Regions from separate parts of the Homo sapiens genome. Here region 2 is linked to region 1. The links come from fine-mapping of genetic effects on plasma protein levels. A gene starts in region 1. The other region holds a variant in brackets. All regions are shown on one strand. Distances are from middle to middle.

Region 1 (6,034 bases):
AAAAAAAAGGACGACAACCAAAAGGGCTACGAATGGCTGGGCACGGTGGCTCACGCCTGTAATCCCAGCACTTTGGGAGGCTGAGGTGGGTGGATCACCTGAGGTTGGAAGTTCGAGACCAGCCTGACCAAAATGGTGAAACCCCGTCTCTACTAAAATTGCAAAAATTAGCCCGGCGTGGTGGTGTGTGCCTGTAATCCCAGCTACTCAGGAGGCCGAGGCAGGAGAATCGCTTGAACCGGGGAGGCAGAGGTTACAGTGAGCCAAGATCACACCACTGCACTCCAGCCTGGGCGACAGAGCGAGACTCTGTCTCAAAAAAAAAAAAAAAAAAAAAAGAAAAGAAAAGAAAAAAGAAGTCTACGAATTTGGAGCCAAATCAGCCCAGAGACACTGAACAGTGATACTAAGAGCAAGAAATTTAAGGGCTTAGAGATTTGGAGGAGGAGAGAATTAGAAGGCAACGGAGGGCTAGGGTGGTAGTTCACATCTGTAGTCCCAGCACTTTGGGAAGCTGAGGCAGGCAGATCGCTGAGCTGAGCCCAGGAGTTTGAGACCAGCCTGGGCAACACAGCGAAACCCTTGTCTCTGTAAAAAATTTTTAAAATTAGCCGGCTGTGGTGGTGTGTGCCTATGGTCCCAGCTGCTCAGGAGGCTGAGGTGGGAGGATGGCTTCAGCCTGGGAAGCAGAGGTTGCAGTGAGCCGTGAATGTGTCACTGCACTTTAGCCTGGGTGACAAAGCGAGACCCCCAGTCTCAAGAAAAGAGAGAGAAGGCAATAGAAGCATGAGAGGTTTTGAAGAGATACCAAGGAGCTCGGTTCTGAAGAATTTGTAACTCCAGGGATCTCGTGAGGAAGCCAGAACGAGGCAACTGGGGGCAAGCACTGAGAGGACCTGGGAGATGTGGCCCTGTGGAGTGGAGGAAGGGGTCAGTACCTGTGTGTGGAATTGTCTGCAGCTGGGGATGCAGCCCGTCCAGTCAGAGGCCCATGCTGTCCCAGGCGAAGCCCCTGAACTCGGCCTAGCCCCAGGCTGTGGAGAAGCCGCGCCAAGCCCCCTGCAGTCAGCGTCCCATTCTCGCCGTACAGGCCAAACAGCTGGGCCAGGTAATGGTTCTGCTCCTGCTCAGCAGGGCCCAGGTTGGGGACTGAGCCCCCTACCCAGCCCAAGACGACCCACACACAGAAGCCGGCCAGCAGATGACTCACTGGGGACCCCATCATTGGTGAGGGGAATAGCTTAGGGGCTCAGGTTCTGGCTCCTATTCTCCCCGAAACATCCTGAGGACTGTGCCCTGGAAGAATGAGGAATGGGCTGGAGCTGCGCTCTGCTCTCCAGCTCAGGTCCATGGGGGAGCCAGAGCTCCTTGCACCTGCTCCCCACCGAGTCCAGCAGCAGCCCCTACTGCAGCCTTCTTTCTCCCTTCACACTGCCTCCTGCGGGAGCAGCCTCTTGTTTGCTGGTTCCTGGAGCACCTCCCTGAGTCAGAGCTCTCCTCATACTTCATCCAGAGCTGACCGTCCATTCCTTGTCCCCTAAACCCCACCCCTCAACTTTGCCCCACCTCTTTATCCCCCCTCAATCCCCAGGGCCTCACCCCTACTGGCAACATAAGAGCTGTCACCTCAGGTCCCCTATTAGGCCTTGCTGTAGACGTTAAGCAGTTCCTGAGTCAGGGAAGGGGGAATCCAGGCTTAGCCTCCAGGTGTCCAGGTGGATCGGAGGCCACGTCACATAGAAGGCTGAGATGGACATGCACCCCCTCCTAGCCCACCTGCCTTGGGGCGGGGTCAGGGGTGGGGCCAGTGTGTGAAGGCTCACATAAGAGAGGAGTTAATGGTTCACTGGTCTCTGGGGTAGGGATCAAAAGTCAGTCTCTGCTGGGCCCCTGGGTAGGGAGGGGCCACCCTCTGCCCTGGGAAAGCCACATGGCTAAGGAGAACCTGGGCCTAGTCTTTTTCCTCTTAAATAATTCACCCTATCCTTAACACCATTAGTACCATTTTAGCCCTTTCCCTCATGTACTTCCACCCCACCTACCTTACAGTCTAGCACTAAACTTCATCTCCAACCCCCATCCCCATATTCCTTGGGAAGGTTGGACCCAGGTGTCCCTAACCTGGGGAGGAGGGGGGAAAAGGCAGATCAGTGGCAAGCCCAGATGCATGCATGGGAAATAAACTGTTCTTAGCAGTTTCTCACCCCAAGAAGAGAAAGAGCCAGAGCTCTAGGGATCGATGACCAAGAAAGGGGAAGCCCTGCGGGGGGAGAGGAAACAAGGATCTGGGCTCTCCTCTGATGTCTGACCTGGCCTAAAATCAGGCAAGCAAAGTCTGATCGGGGTGACTGGTCCAGGGGGTTGAGGTTGGCATTACCTGATAGCAGGAGACAAGGACACCCAGAGGAAGGGGGACACAACCTTCTTGGTTCCAGCTGGGGGGGCAGGCAGGCAGGCGGGCAAGGGTCACCTGCAGGGAGGGGGTAGGGGAGGGACACTACCTTAAAGGGGCAGGTCTGCTTTGCCTGGGCCTCCTTACCTGTAACCTATTTTCCTTCCACCTTCTAGGGACACCCCACCTTCCCAAATGCCTAGTTGCTAACCTCTTCCTTTTCCCACAGAAAGCAAAGGAGTCCAACACAGAGTAGAGTGGTAACATTTATTAGGAAGGAGAGACTTCAGTTAGACTCCCATGTCTCACACAGAAGAAACAGATGGTAACTGCCATTTCTTTCTTTCTTTCTTTCTTTCTTTCTTTTTTTTTTGAGATGGAGTTTCGCTCTTATTGCCCAGGCTGGAGTGCAATGGTGCAATTTCGGCTCACCTCAACCTCCGCCTCCCGGTTTCAAGAGATTCTCCTGCCTCAGCCTCCTAAGTAGCTGGGATTACAGGCATACGCCACCATGCCTGGCTAATTCTGTATTTTTAGTAGACACGGGGTTTCTCCATGTTGGTCAGGCTGGTCTTGAACTCCCGACCTCAGGTGATCCGCCCACCTCGGCTTCCCAAAGTGCTGGGATTACAAGCGTGAGCCACTGCGCCCAGCCAGTAACTGCCATTTCTAAAGAGGAAAGAGAGCAGGCAGAGGGTCCTGACTCCCAGGGGACAGGTAGTTCAGCTGGACAATGAGGGAGTATGAGATTAGGGTGGATAAGGACACTGCTCACCACCCTCCACTGAAGTTCAGTGGCTAAAATACTGCTACACCAGCCAATCAGTGGAAGGCTATCTTGCTCTCCAGGGGACACTTGGGATGTGGTTGGTGGCAGGAAGAAAGAATGTCATGCTATCTCTTGCTGCTCCTCCGGGTTTCTTTGCCGTTACTAACAGGGTTGCTGGAAGGGCCAGGCGGGCCTGCAGGTGTGTGGTTGGGCTGGCTTCGAGTGATTCGGGTGCTGGGTGGGTGGGAGGGAGTATGAGGGGGATGTGGGCCACCACCGGGACCTGGTGGGGCACTCAGTCCATTCCCATTCTGGTTCTCAGAGGCTAATTGTGGGAGGAGAAGAAACAAAGGAATTAGTTAACATAGGAGAGGGGTCCATCCCAAGGCCTGTCTCCATGCCCCAAAGAGTGGCACAGTCTTCACCATGCACAACTGCATCTTAATGCCAACTGGACCAAATGCAAAAGACTGTGGGCTGCGAGTATGAATGGAGCTCCAGAGAAGACTTACACGATCATTTAGGAAGTTGCTACATGAACCTCGGTACGGTATTTTTCTCTTGTAGTTATCTCACTATTATTGGGAATCAGACCTAGAATTAGCTGTTTAGTTCTAGGCTCAGGGACCTCTGACAAAAATGCCCCTTTACTGGGCCAGGCGTGGTGGCTCACACCTGTAATCTCAGTACGGTGGGAGGCTGACGCGGGTGGATCACGAGGTCAGGCATTCGAGACCAGCCTGGCCAACATAGTGAAACCCCGTCTCTACTAAAAATACAAAAAATTAGCTAGGTGTGGTGGCAGGCGCCTGTAATCCCAGATACTCAGGAGGCTGAGGCAGGAGGGTCGCCTAAACCTGGGAGGCAGAGGTTGCAGTGAGCCGAGATTGCACCATTGCACTCCAGCCCGGGTGACAGTGTGAGACTCCTTCTCAATTAAAAAAAAAAAAAAGGCCCCTTCACCAAAAGTGATTATAAAACTGGAGAAGCATGGCAAGGGGAAGGGCCTGAAGTCTCTGCGTTAAAATATGAGGCACTTAAAAAAAAGGTGTGTATGAGTGTACGATAATGATAATGTTCATTTTAGAAAATATAGATAACCATCAGTGAAAAGATTATTATTATTTTTTATTTATTTATTTTTTTGAGTTGGAGTTTCGCTCTTGTTGCCCAGGCTGGAGTGCAATGGAGCGATCCCAGCTCACTACAACCTCCGCCTCCCAGGTTCAAGCAATTCTTCTGCCTCAGCCTCCTGAGTAGCTGGGATTATAGGCATGAGCCACCACGCCTGGCTAATTTTGTATTTTTAGTAGAGATGGGGTTTCTCCATGTTGGTCAGGCTGGTCTTGAACTCCCAGCCTCAGGTGATCCACCCACCTCGGCCTCCCAAAGTGCTGGGATTACAGGCGCGAGCCACTGCGCCCAGCTAGTGAAAAGATTATTACACGTAATCTTACCCACCAAAGCTAATAACAAGTCACATTTTTGTGTATATAAATATTTATTTTTTAATTTTTACTGTTTTAGAGATGAGGTCTCACTTTGTCACTCAGGCTGGAGTGTAGTGGTGTGATCATAGCTCACTGCAGCCTCAAACTCCTTGCTCAAGCAATGCTCCTGCCTCAGCCTCCCAAGTAGCTAGGATGATGGGTGTGCACCGCTGCGTCTGGCTTATATTTTCAATGTTTGAAGCCAGGTGTGTGGGATGATTTGTTTGAGCTCTCACAACTCTGGACATACCACTGTCATTGAACTTAACCATGGCGTATTATAATCATTATCTCTCTCCTGTATAAACCACAAGCCCCTAAAGGCAGGTAGTGTGTTTTATTCCACGGCAAATAGTAGGTGCTCTAGAAACATTTGTTATATGAAGGCAGAGGTTTGCTTCTTGCATACAGTAGGGACTATGAACCCTAAATGGCATGGAAGTTATAGCCTAGTGGTTCTTTTTTTTTTTTTTTTGAGAAAGAGTCTCACTGTCGCGCAAGCTGGAGTGCAGTGGCATGATCTCAGCTCACTGCAACCTCCACTTCCCAGGTTCAAGCCATTCGCCTGCCTCGGCCTCCCAAGTAGCTGGGATTACAGGCTCCTGCCACCACATCTGGCTAATTTTTGTATTTTTAATAGAGATGGGGTTTCGCCACGTTGGCCATGGCTGGTCTTGAACTCCTGACCTCAGGTGATCTGCCAGCCTTGGCCTCCCAAAGTGCTGAGATTATAGGCATGAGCCACTGCGCCCAGCCAGTCTAGTTCTTAAACCATATCTCTACTGAACCCTGCTGCTCCACTGGACTAAGATATCTGCAGCCCATGGCTGGGCGCGGTGGCTCACGCCTGTAATCCCAGCACTTTGGGAGGCTGAGGTGGGTAGATCGCCTGAGCTCAGGAGTTCGAGACCAGCCTGGGCAACATGGTGAAACCCCGTCTCTACTAAAATACAAAAAATTAGCAGGGCATGGTGGCGTGCACCTGTGATCCCAGCTACTCAGGAGGCCGAGACAGGAGAATCACTTGAACCCAGGAGGCAGAGGTTGAAGTGAGCCGAGGTCACACCATTGCACTCCAGCCTGGGTGACAGAGACTCCATCTCAAAAAAAAAAAAATTAGCCGGGCATGGTGGCAGGTGCCTGTAATCCTAGTTACTTGGGAGGCTGAGGCAGGAGAATCACTTGAACCTGGGAGGCGGAGGTTGCAGTGAGCCGAGATCACGCCATTGCACTCCAGCCTGGTTGACAAGAGCGAGACTTCGTCTCAAAAAAAAAAAAAAAAAAAAAAAAAGGGGTCTGGGAGAATTGGGTGAAGGAGGATACACTGAGAAAAGAGAGATTTGGAAAAGGAATGAGGGAAATGCATCTTTCTAGGCTGAGGAG
Region 2 (9,170 bases), 18 kb after region 1:
ATCCCATTCCAGGCCTCAACCCTCTTCTCTGTCGCTCGGGATTCCTTCTGCCCTTGAAAGTCCAGTTCTTAAAACTTCTTTCTGCAGAAAGCTTTCTGTGATTAATCTGTACCATTTGTTCTTTTTTGTATATTTACAACTTACATAAATTATTGACTTTTACTTGTTAATAATTTGCTTAATACGTTTATGTGTTTTTATGTGTTTTTTTTCCTATGTACTCATTGGGCTCAAGCCTACACCTTAGTTTGAGGACAAGGATTATGTGTTTCTTCTTTTTTTTTTTTGAGACAGAGTCTTGCTCTGTCGCCTAGGCTGGAGTGCAGTGGCATGATCTCAGCTCACTGCAACCTTCACCTCCTGGGTTCAAGCAGTTCTCCTGCCTCACCCTCCCAAGTAGCTAGGATTACAGGTGCCCACCACCATGCCCAGCTAATTTTTGTATTTTTAGTAGAGATGGGGTTTCACCATGTTGGCCAGGCTGGTCTTGAACTCCTGACCTCAGGTGATCCACCCACCTCGGCCTCCCAAAGTGCTAGGATTACAGGCGTGAGCCACTGCGCCCAGCCAGTTGTTTACTGACCTCTTCTTTGGGTTTGACCTTTGGGAGCCCAAAGAAGGGGCATGGCGCCATTGCCGCTGTTTGAGTCCTTGCTCTTTTGGACCTCTCTTTTTTTTTTTTTTTTTTTTTGAGACAGAGTCGTGCTCTGTCACTGGGCTAGAATACAGTGGTGCAATCTCGGCTCACTGCAACCTCCGCCTCCTGGGTTCAAGCGATTCTCCTGCCTCAGCCTCCCGAGTAGCTGGGACTACAGGTGCGCACCACCACGCCTGGCTAATTTTTGTATTTTTAGTAGAGACGGGGTTTCGCCATGTTGGCCAGGATGGTGTTGATCTCTTGACCTCATGATCCGTCTGCCTCAGCCTCCCAAAGTGCTGGGATTACAGGCATGAGCCACCATGCCCGGCCCTCTCTTCTCTTCTTTATCCCCATCACCACCACCACCTAAGTTCAGACTCTTACCGTCACTCTCCTGACTTAGATGTTCTTCCGGTCTCCAGTTTCTCCCCTGTTAACATACTGATTCTAAAATGGAACTATTATCACATTGTTTTTTAAGTCCTTCAGTGGCTCTCTCATACCCTTCAGAATAAAGTCCAAAATCCTCACAGACTTTTCACAGCATGGCCCTTGCTTGCCTCTCCAGCCTTGTCTCTTGACAGGCCCTCCCTCCCACCTCTCAGGTCAGCCTTTTCTTGAATCACTTGAAATTCTCTGAACCTATCATATGCCCTCTTCTGGGCATTTGGATGTGCTATTTTATGTGCATAACACCCTAATGCCCTGCTCCCCCAACATTTAGCTGACTCTTGCCCTACAGGACACGTTTCTGGTGACGCCCAGTCCTGGAAAACTTGTCAAAACCACCCTCTGCTTTCAGCCTGGGTTAGGTATTCATGTCTCTTGTCCTCATAAGGTCCTGTCTCTACTCTGAGTATTTATCACTTTATATTTTAAATGTGTGCTTATATAATGTCTTCCCCCATTAGAATTACATTTCTTTTTTTCTTTTTTTTTTAAGGCAGAGTCTTACTCTGTTGCCTAGGCTAGAGAGCTGTGGTGCAATCTCGGCTCACTGCAGCCTCTGCCTCCTGGGTTCAAGTGATTCTTGTGCCTCAGCCTTCCAAGTAGCTGGGATTACAGATGTGCATCACCACGCCCAGCTAATTTTTGTATTTTTAGTAGAGCTGGGTTTTCATCATGTTGGCCAGGCTGGTCTTGAACTCCTGACCTCAGCTCATCTGCCTGTCCCGGCCTCCCAAAGTGCTGGGATTACAGGCGTGAGCCACTGTGCCAGGCCTTAGAATTAATTTTTTTTTTTTTTTTAGAGACTGAGGCTCGCTGTGTTCCCCAGGCTGGAGTGCAGTGGCGCGATCTCGGCTCACTGCAACCTCTGCCTCCTGGGTTCAAATGCTTCTCCTGCCTCAGCCTCCCGAGTAGCTGGGATTACAGATGCGCATACCACACCCAGCTAATTTTTGTATTTTTAGTAGAGACAGGGTTTCACCATGTTGGCCAGGCTGGTCTTGAACTCCTGACCTCAGGTGATCCGCCTGCCTCGGCCTCCCAAAGTGTTGGGATTACAGGCGTGATCCACTGCACCTGGCCAGAATTAAATTTCTTGAGTCAGCTTCCACCGAGCCAAATGACTGCTGCATAGTAGACTCCCAGTAAATATTTGTTGGATAAATGAATGGATCTTG[G/A]CAATGAGTGTATGTTTGTCACATATTTGTAGGCTTCTTCTGAACTGGCCTCTTTTTCCTGTTGTCCTTTCAGGACCTGGGTTTCAGTGATGAGACATGGGGTATGATGTAACCCGTTTCCAGGGGGATGTTGACGAAGATCTTATCTGCCCTATTTGCAGTGGAGTCTTGGAGGAGCCAGTACAGGTGAGTTGGTCTGATGGCAGGTTTGGTGGGGCAACAGGTAGCAGTGGAACTAGTAGAAAATATTCATGGGCAGCGGGACCCATGGTGAAGTCACTGTGTTCTTCTCTCCACCCTCACCCAATAGAGATTTAGGTCAAAGGAGTAATGGTGACTACAAGAATAAGGCCTTCCAGAATCAATCTAGAGGTGGATGCCACAGAGATCCAGTGGTTCAGATTTTTTTCTGAGGTCACTCTGAAAGATTTCTCCTGTAAAACAGTCAGCTGCTTGTTTCTGTCTTGTGATAGTAGCTGGGTAGCTTCCTTTCCTCTACAGGAACTCTTACTAGGTTCCATCTTCCTGTCCGTGATTGAACTTCTGGACTCTCCTAATAAGTTCTCTCTGCATTTTTATGATGTAGTGCTTCAGGTAATCAGCCAGGCTCCCTGCAGGCCTCTTCTACCTGCCTACTGTCTAACAAATAGGAAGGCTGGGCACAGTGGCTCACACCTGTAATCCCAGCACTTTGGGAGGCCAAGGTGGGTGGATCACGAGTTCAAGAGCCATCCTGGCCAACATGGTGAAACCCCGTCTCTACTAAAAATACAAAAATTAGCTGGGCGTGGTGGCACACACCTGTAGTCCCAGCTACTCAGGAGGCTAGACAGGAGAATTGCTTGAACCCGGGAGTAGGAGGTTGCAGTGAGCCGAGATTGTGCCACTGCACTCCAGCCTGGGTGACAGAGTGAGACTCCATCTCAAAAAAAAAAAAACAAAAACAAATAGGAAGTGGGGAACTGTATGTACTGACCTATTTTTTTCCTGGGATCTACTGAAAAGACCAGCTTTTGATACAGCCATGCACTCTGCATTTTGATGTGAAAGCTGCCACCTTCAATAGGTCATTTCTCTGCCAGCCTTGCCAGACCAGAGTCAGTTGTATCATCCTGGGGCAAGTATGAGGAGAAGCTCACGATTACCAGGCAAGTACAATGAGTGAGGTGAATCCTTAAGAGTTGTATTCATGGGACAGCATCCTCCAGGATCCTTATTGCCCTCATTCTGTAAATACCAATTAATCCTTTCTCTTTCCTGGCTATCTAGAGATTATCACATTTTCCAAACCAGGACACTAGGCAATGAGGTTTCATGGCCCTTCCCCCATTCACTGCTCACCTAACTCCCAGGGGCTCCCCTTGAGCCTTTATTTTTTCTCCCAGTACTACTCCAAAAGGAGTACTGATGCCTTGAGCTGAATAAAATTCAGACTGCATTCCAATGGCAACCAACTCTGGACCTGTCTTCTTTCTAGGCCTTTGCAGTCTGCTGCCATTAGAGGCATATTAGATGGGTGTGGAGCAAGTCATCAAGTAGTAGTGTCAAGAGGTCACAGGGTGTGTCAGGTTCCCTCCTCACCCTGGCAGGGCCTTGTCTGTTTTCTGGCACTATCATTTTAGGCAAGTCACTTATGGAAAGGTGAGTCGTAGTTGGTGACAGTCTAGTCAGAAGCCACCCATCTACCTCCAGGCTTTATCTTCTGAGGAGCAGAGCAGGCAACCCTCATGATGCCAGGTTCCCAGACACATTTCTAAGGTTAGAAGGCTCCTGCTAGGGATGCTGATTTCCCCACATCATAATTATTTATTTTTTGAATAGGTGAAAAATGAACATAGTTCAGAAATCAAAAGGTATACAGTGAGAATTCTCACTTCTGTCTTTATTACTGTGCACCTAATTCCCCCACAGATAACTATTTTTATTAGTTTATTTGGTATCCTTCCAGTGTGTCTTAAGGCAGATATAAGCAAATATGAATAGATGTCTGCATATATATGTATTTGTGTATACATATGTATATATGAATATATCTGTGTTTCACCATGTTGGCCAGTCTGGTCTTGAACTGATCTCAAGTGATCTGCCTGCCTTGGCCTCCCAAAGTGCTGGGATTACAGGCATGAGCCACCATGCCCGGCCTTATTTAGCTTTGTTTTGTTTTGTTTTTTTGAGATGGAGTCTCACACTTTAGCCTAGGCTGGAGTGCAGTGGCATGATCTTGGCTCACTGCAAGCTCTGCCTCCCAGGTTCACGCCATTCTTCTGCCTCAGCCTCCTAAATAGCTGAGACTACAGGCACCCGCCACCACGCCCGGCTAATTTTTTGTATTTTTAGTAGAGACAGGGTTTCGCTATGTTAGCCAGGATGGTCTCAATCTCCTGACCTCATTATCCGCCCACCTCAGCCTCCCAAAGTGCTGGGATTACAGGCGCCATCCACCATGCCTGGCCTAGCTTTCTTACATTGAATTTTTGCCAGTAAATATGTCCTCCTCCTCTCTAAATCTATCATCTGAATTATCCTTCAAGACCCATATCAAATTCTGTCCTCTTCATAAATACCTGCCGTGATTGAGCTAGCCTGAAAAGACCTCACCCTCCTCTGGACATTTTTGGCAATTATTGTGTATGCAATCCAGATGGCAATTAATAATTGGCTGCCTTGTGTCATCTGTCCTATTGTCCTAGAATATCATTTGTATCTCTTATTGTTATATAACTTTTTACTTGTTTGTCTTGTTTCACAACTCATTTTTAATCTTGAGCACAGGGAATATATATATATATATTTATTTATTTATTTTGAAACAGGTTCTGGCTCTGTCACCCAGGCTGGAGTGCAGTGGTGCAGTCTTGGTTCACTGCAACCTCCGCCTTATGGGCTCAAGCCATCCTCCATCCTCCCACCTCAGCCTCCTGGCTAGCTGGGACTATAGGCACGTGCCACCAGGCCCAGCTTTTTTTTTTCGAGATGTATTGCCCAGGCTAGAGTGCAGTGGTGTGATCTTGGCTCACTGCAACCTCCACCTCCTGGGTTCAAGCTATTCTCCTGCCTTAGCCTCCTGAGTAGCTGTGATTACAGGCATGCGCCACCACCCCTGGCTAATTTTTTTATTTTTAGTAGAGACAGGGTTTCACCATGTCGGTCAGGCTGGTCTTGAACTCCTGACCTCATGATCCGCCTGCCTCGGCCTCCCAAAGTGCTGAGATTACAGGCGTGAGCCACTGCGCCCGGCCTATGCCCGGCTAATTTTTGTAATTTTTGTAGAGATGGGGTTTTGTCATGTTGTCTGGGATGGTCTCAAACTCCTGAGGTCAAGCAGTGTGCCTGCCTTAGCCTCCCAAAGTGCTGGGATTACAGGCATGAGCCACCGTGCCCAGCAGGAAACGTATCTTAAGCCTGTCCCCTACAATGCCTTGCCCGTAGTAGATCTATACTTTGCTGTGACCCAGTGGACCTCTTGTCGTAGAGGCTGCTCAAAGGCTTGATTGGCTTTGTAGAGTTATATCATATCCAGGCTCTTAGGTCCTGCTAATTCCCTTGCGCCCCTTTTGCCTTGTTCTCTCTTCTAGGCACCTCATTGTGAACATGCTTTCTGCAACGCCTGCATCACCCAGTGGTTCTCTCAGCAACAGACATGTCCAGTGGACCGTAGTGTTGTGACGGTCGCCCATCTGCGCCCAGTACCTCGGATCATGCGGAACATGTTGTCAAAGCTGCAGATTGCCTGTGACAACGCTGTGTTCGGCTGTAGTGCCGTTGTCCGGCTTGACAACCTCATGTCTCACCTCAGCGACTGTGAGCACAACCCGAAGCGGCCTGTGACCTGTGAACAGGGCTGTGGGTGAGATTTGTTCCCTTCTGCCCCACATGGATAAGGGCCATCTCATTTATGCCCCTGTCTCTGGCTGCCCTCCTCACTAGCTGAGGAGGTCTCTTTGGCATGTTGGCAAGGAGTATTCTTAGCCTCCTTGGCTTCCTGCTCTAAGATCTTACTTTCTTGCTGCTTTTCCAACTATAATCATTTTGCTCTTGCTTTAACAAAAGAAGGGGCACAGCAATTTAGTAAATTTGTGTAATAACATTAAAGCTTGATTGACTCTATTCTTCCCTTTCAGTCCAATACTACTTTCCGTTTGTCAGGTTGACTGCTATAATTGCCAGCCTTCTCATATTTCCTCTTGCCCTATTTTTTTATTTCTGTGGGTTATGAAATATTCGACTAAATGTTGATAGCTGAAGGGCATGTTAGCTCACACCTGTAATCCTAGCACTTTGGGAGGCCGAAGTGGGCAAGTCACTTCAGGCCAGGAGTTCAAGACCAACCTGGCCAACATGGCAAAACCTTGTCTCTACTAAAAATACAAAAATTAGCCAGGTGTGGGGCCGGGCGCGGTGGCTCACGCCTGTAATCCCAGCACTTTGGGAGGCCAAGGCGGGTGGATCACGAGGTCAGGAGATTGAGACCATCCTGGCTAACACATTGAAACCCCGTCTCTACTAAAAATACAAAAAACTAGCCAGGCGTGGTGGCAGGCACCTGTAGTCCCAGCTACTTGGGAGGCTGAGGCAGGAGAACGGCATGAACCTGGGACGGGGAGCTTGCAGTGAGCAGAGATTGAGCCACTGCACTCCAGCCTGGGCAACAGAGCGAGACTCCGTCTCAAAAAAAAAAAAAAAAAATTAGCCAAGTGTGGTGGTGCTCGCCTGTAATCCCAGCTACTCAGGAGGCTGAGGCATGAGAATCACTTAAAACCAGAGGTAGAGGTTGTAGTGAGCTGAGATCGCGCCATTGCACTCCAGCCTGGGTGACAGAATGAGACTCTGTTCCCCCTAACTAAAAAATAAAAAGAATGTTGATAGCTGGGGCTGTGAATATAGGGCTTCTCTGAAGGAATAAGTGCACAGGCAGAATCTGTAGGAGGAAAAGGAGAGCTGTGCAGTAGATAAAAACAGTGTGTCAAAATAAATAAATAGGCCCCGTGCGGTGGCTCACGCCTGTAATCCCAGCACTTTGGGAGGACGAGGCGGGCGGATCACCTGAGGTCAGGAGTTCAAGACCAGCGTGGCCAACATGGTGAAACCCCATCTCTACTAAAAATATAAAAATTAGCCAGGTGTGGTGGTGGGCACCTGTAATCCCAGCTACTCGGGAGGCTGAGGCACAAGAATTACTTGAACCCATGAGGCGGAGGTTGCAGTGAGCTGAGACCGTGCCATTGCACTCCAGCCTGGGTGACAAGAGTGAAACTTGGTCTCGAAAAAAAAAAAAAAAGGCCAGGCGCGGTGGCTCACGCCTGTAATCCCAACACTTTGGAAGGCCGAGGGGGGCAGATCACGTGAGGCCAGGAGTTTGAGACCAGCCTGGCTAACATGGAGAAACCCCATTTCTACTAAAAATACAAAAAGTTAGCCGGCCATGGTGGCGCGCACCTGTAATCCCAGCTACTCGGGAGGCTGAGGCAGGAGAATCGCTTGAACCTGGGAGGCAGAGGTTGCGCTGAGCTGAGATCATGCCATCGCACTCCAGTTTGGGCAACAAGAGCGAAACTCCGTGTCAAAAAAAATAATAAAAATACAAAATAAAATAAATTTAAAAAATAGATAAAACACTGTGTCTTGATTGGGGAAAGAAATTTAAGGAAAATAGACAGCAAAGGGGCAAGTAGGAAGCTTGGACGAAGAAAGTGAAGGGAATAAACAAGAGGGAGGCCTGAAATGAATGTTAGAAATTTTGGGTAGGACAAAATCTACTTAGCAGTTATCTGCCACAGAATAGGCCATTTGCATACATGTCCCAGGGATCACCTCTGTTCTGCTCTTTCCCCACCCTGGTCTGCAGCCTGGAGATGCCCAAAGATGAGCTGCCCAACCATAACTGCATTAAGCACCTGCGCTCAGTGGTACAGCAGCAGCAGACACGCATCGCAGAGCTGGAGAAGACGTCAGCTGAACACAAACACCAGCTGGCGGAGCAGGTAGGCCCCAAGACACGGGGGAGAACATATCCCTCATATGCAGATAACTGCCTGCCTGTGGGTAATAAAAACCAGTTGTGAACACACAGACCAGTGCTTACACTTGTGAGCCTAGATGAGTGGATATTCTGCCTGTGGCTTAGCAGGGAATCAGATTGGAGCTCTCCTTGACTTTTCTTCATCCCATTCATAGCATTAATTCACCTACCAGTTATCACATGCCTCCTCTGTGAAGGCACATTTGTAAGTACTAAGGAGACAGCTGTGAGTGAGACAGTCTTATCCCTGTCTTCCTGAAGCTTACAAACTGGTTGTTCTTCAGATCTCTCAGTTGCCCTCATTCTTGGATAAACTTTTGTCTTTTTTCTGCTGTCTGCCTTAACCATTATTCCTGTTCTTCTTCCCCACAACAGAAGCGAGACATCCAGCTGCTAAAGGCATACATGCGTGCAATCCGCAGTGTCAACCCCAACCTTCAGAACCTGGAGGAGACAATTGAATACAACGAGATCCTAGAGTGAGTGTCACTCAGGACGTGGAGTGATTTCATGTCCTGACAACAAGGCCTGAAAGGAGGAAGAGCAGGAGAGTAGCAGAAGGAGGGCATTGGAGAGCTGGGCTGGGGGTCACTGCTTCTCAGATATTGGCATTAAGGACAGGGGCAGAGGAGAAGAGGATAACCCTTAGCTCCACTACAGGATGTCTTATGTGTTTGGGTGGATGGAGGGAAAGCCTGCCCAAGGATGCACTTTATCCAGAATTAGGTGAGTACCCATGTACAAAGCCCTGTATTAAAGGCTGTGGAGTGCTAGGAGGGCCAAAAAGAAATAGAAGATATCGTCCTGTCTTCAGGTAGCTTACAACCCAGAGAAGAGGAGGCAGAGTGCAAGTCCAGGAAAGTGATCTCTAAAATGCAGCAAAAAC

Alleles and levels. Alleles are on the strand shown, and positions count from the first base shown. The strength of an association depends on the size of the effect and on how common the allele is.
With allele A in place of G in region 2, the plasma level of the protein whose gene starts at base 2,449 in region 1 is higher (weak association).

What was found. PIP is the chance, under the fine-mapping model, that this variant and not a neighbour inherited with it causes the effect. The UK Biobank Pharma Proteomics Project read protein levels with antibody pairs (Olink). The fine-mapping took linkage between variants from a reference panel, not from the people measured, so its PIPs are less certain.
Region 2: its variant is fine-mapped to the plasma level of the SLC39A5 protein (UK Biobank, PIP 0.93).

What each region holds. Positions count from the first base shown.
Region 1 is chr12:56,226,466-56,232,499 of GRCh38, reverse strand. It overlaps SLC39A5 (solute carrier family 39 member 5), which reads right to left and starts at 2,449. Exons shown (of 13, transcript NM_173596.3): 1 at 2,378-2,449; 2 at 2,205-2,260; 3 at 1,627-1,669; 4 at 939-1,296. The coding sequence starts at 1,225. It overlaps NABP2 (nucleic acid binding protein 2), which reads right to left. Exons shown (of 7, transcript NM_024068.4): 7 at 2,646-3,486. The coding sequence ends at 3,287.
Region 2 is chr12:56,207,239-56,216,408 of GRCh38, reverse strand. RNF41 (ring finger protein 41) reads left to right here. Exons shown (of 7, transcript NM_005785.4): 3 at 2,339-2,451; 4 at 5,841-6,112; 5 at 8,111-8,246; 6 at 8,660-8,763. The coding sequence starts at 2,362. Among named protein-coding and RNA genes, the nearest start is that of RNF41, 10 kb to the left of the region's middle. RefSeq lists a silencer at 8,230-8,279. The variant G/A (reference allele first, on the strand shown) is at 2,266.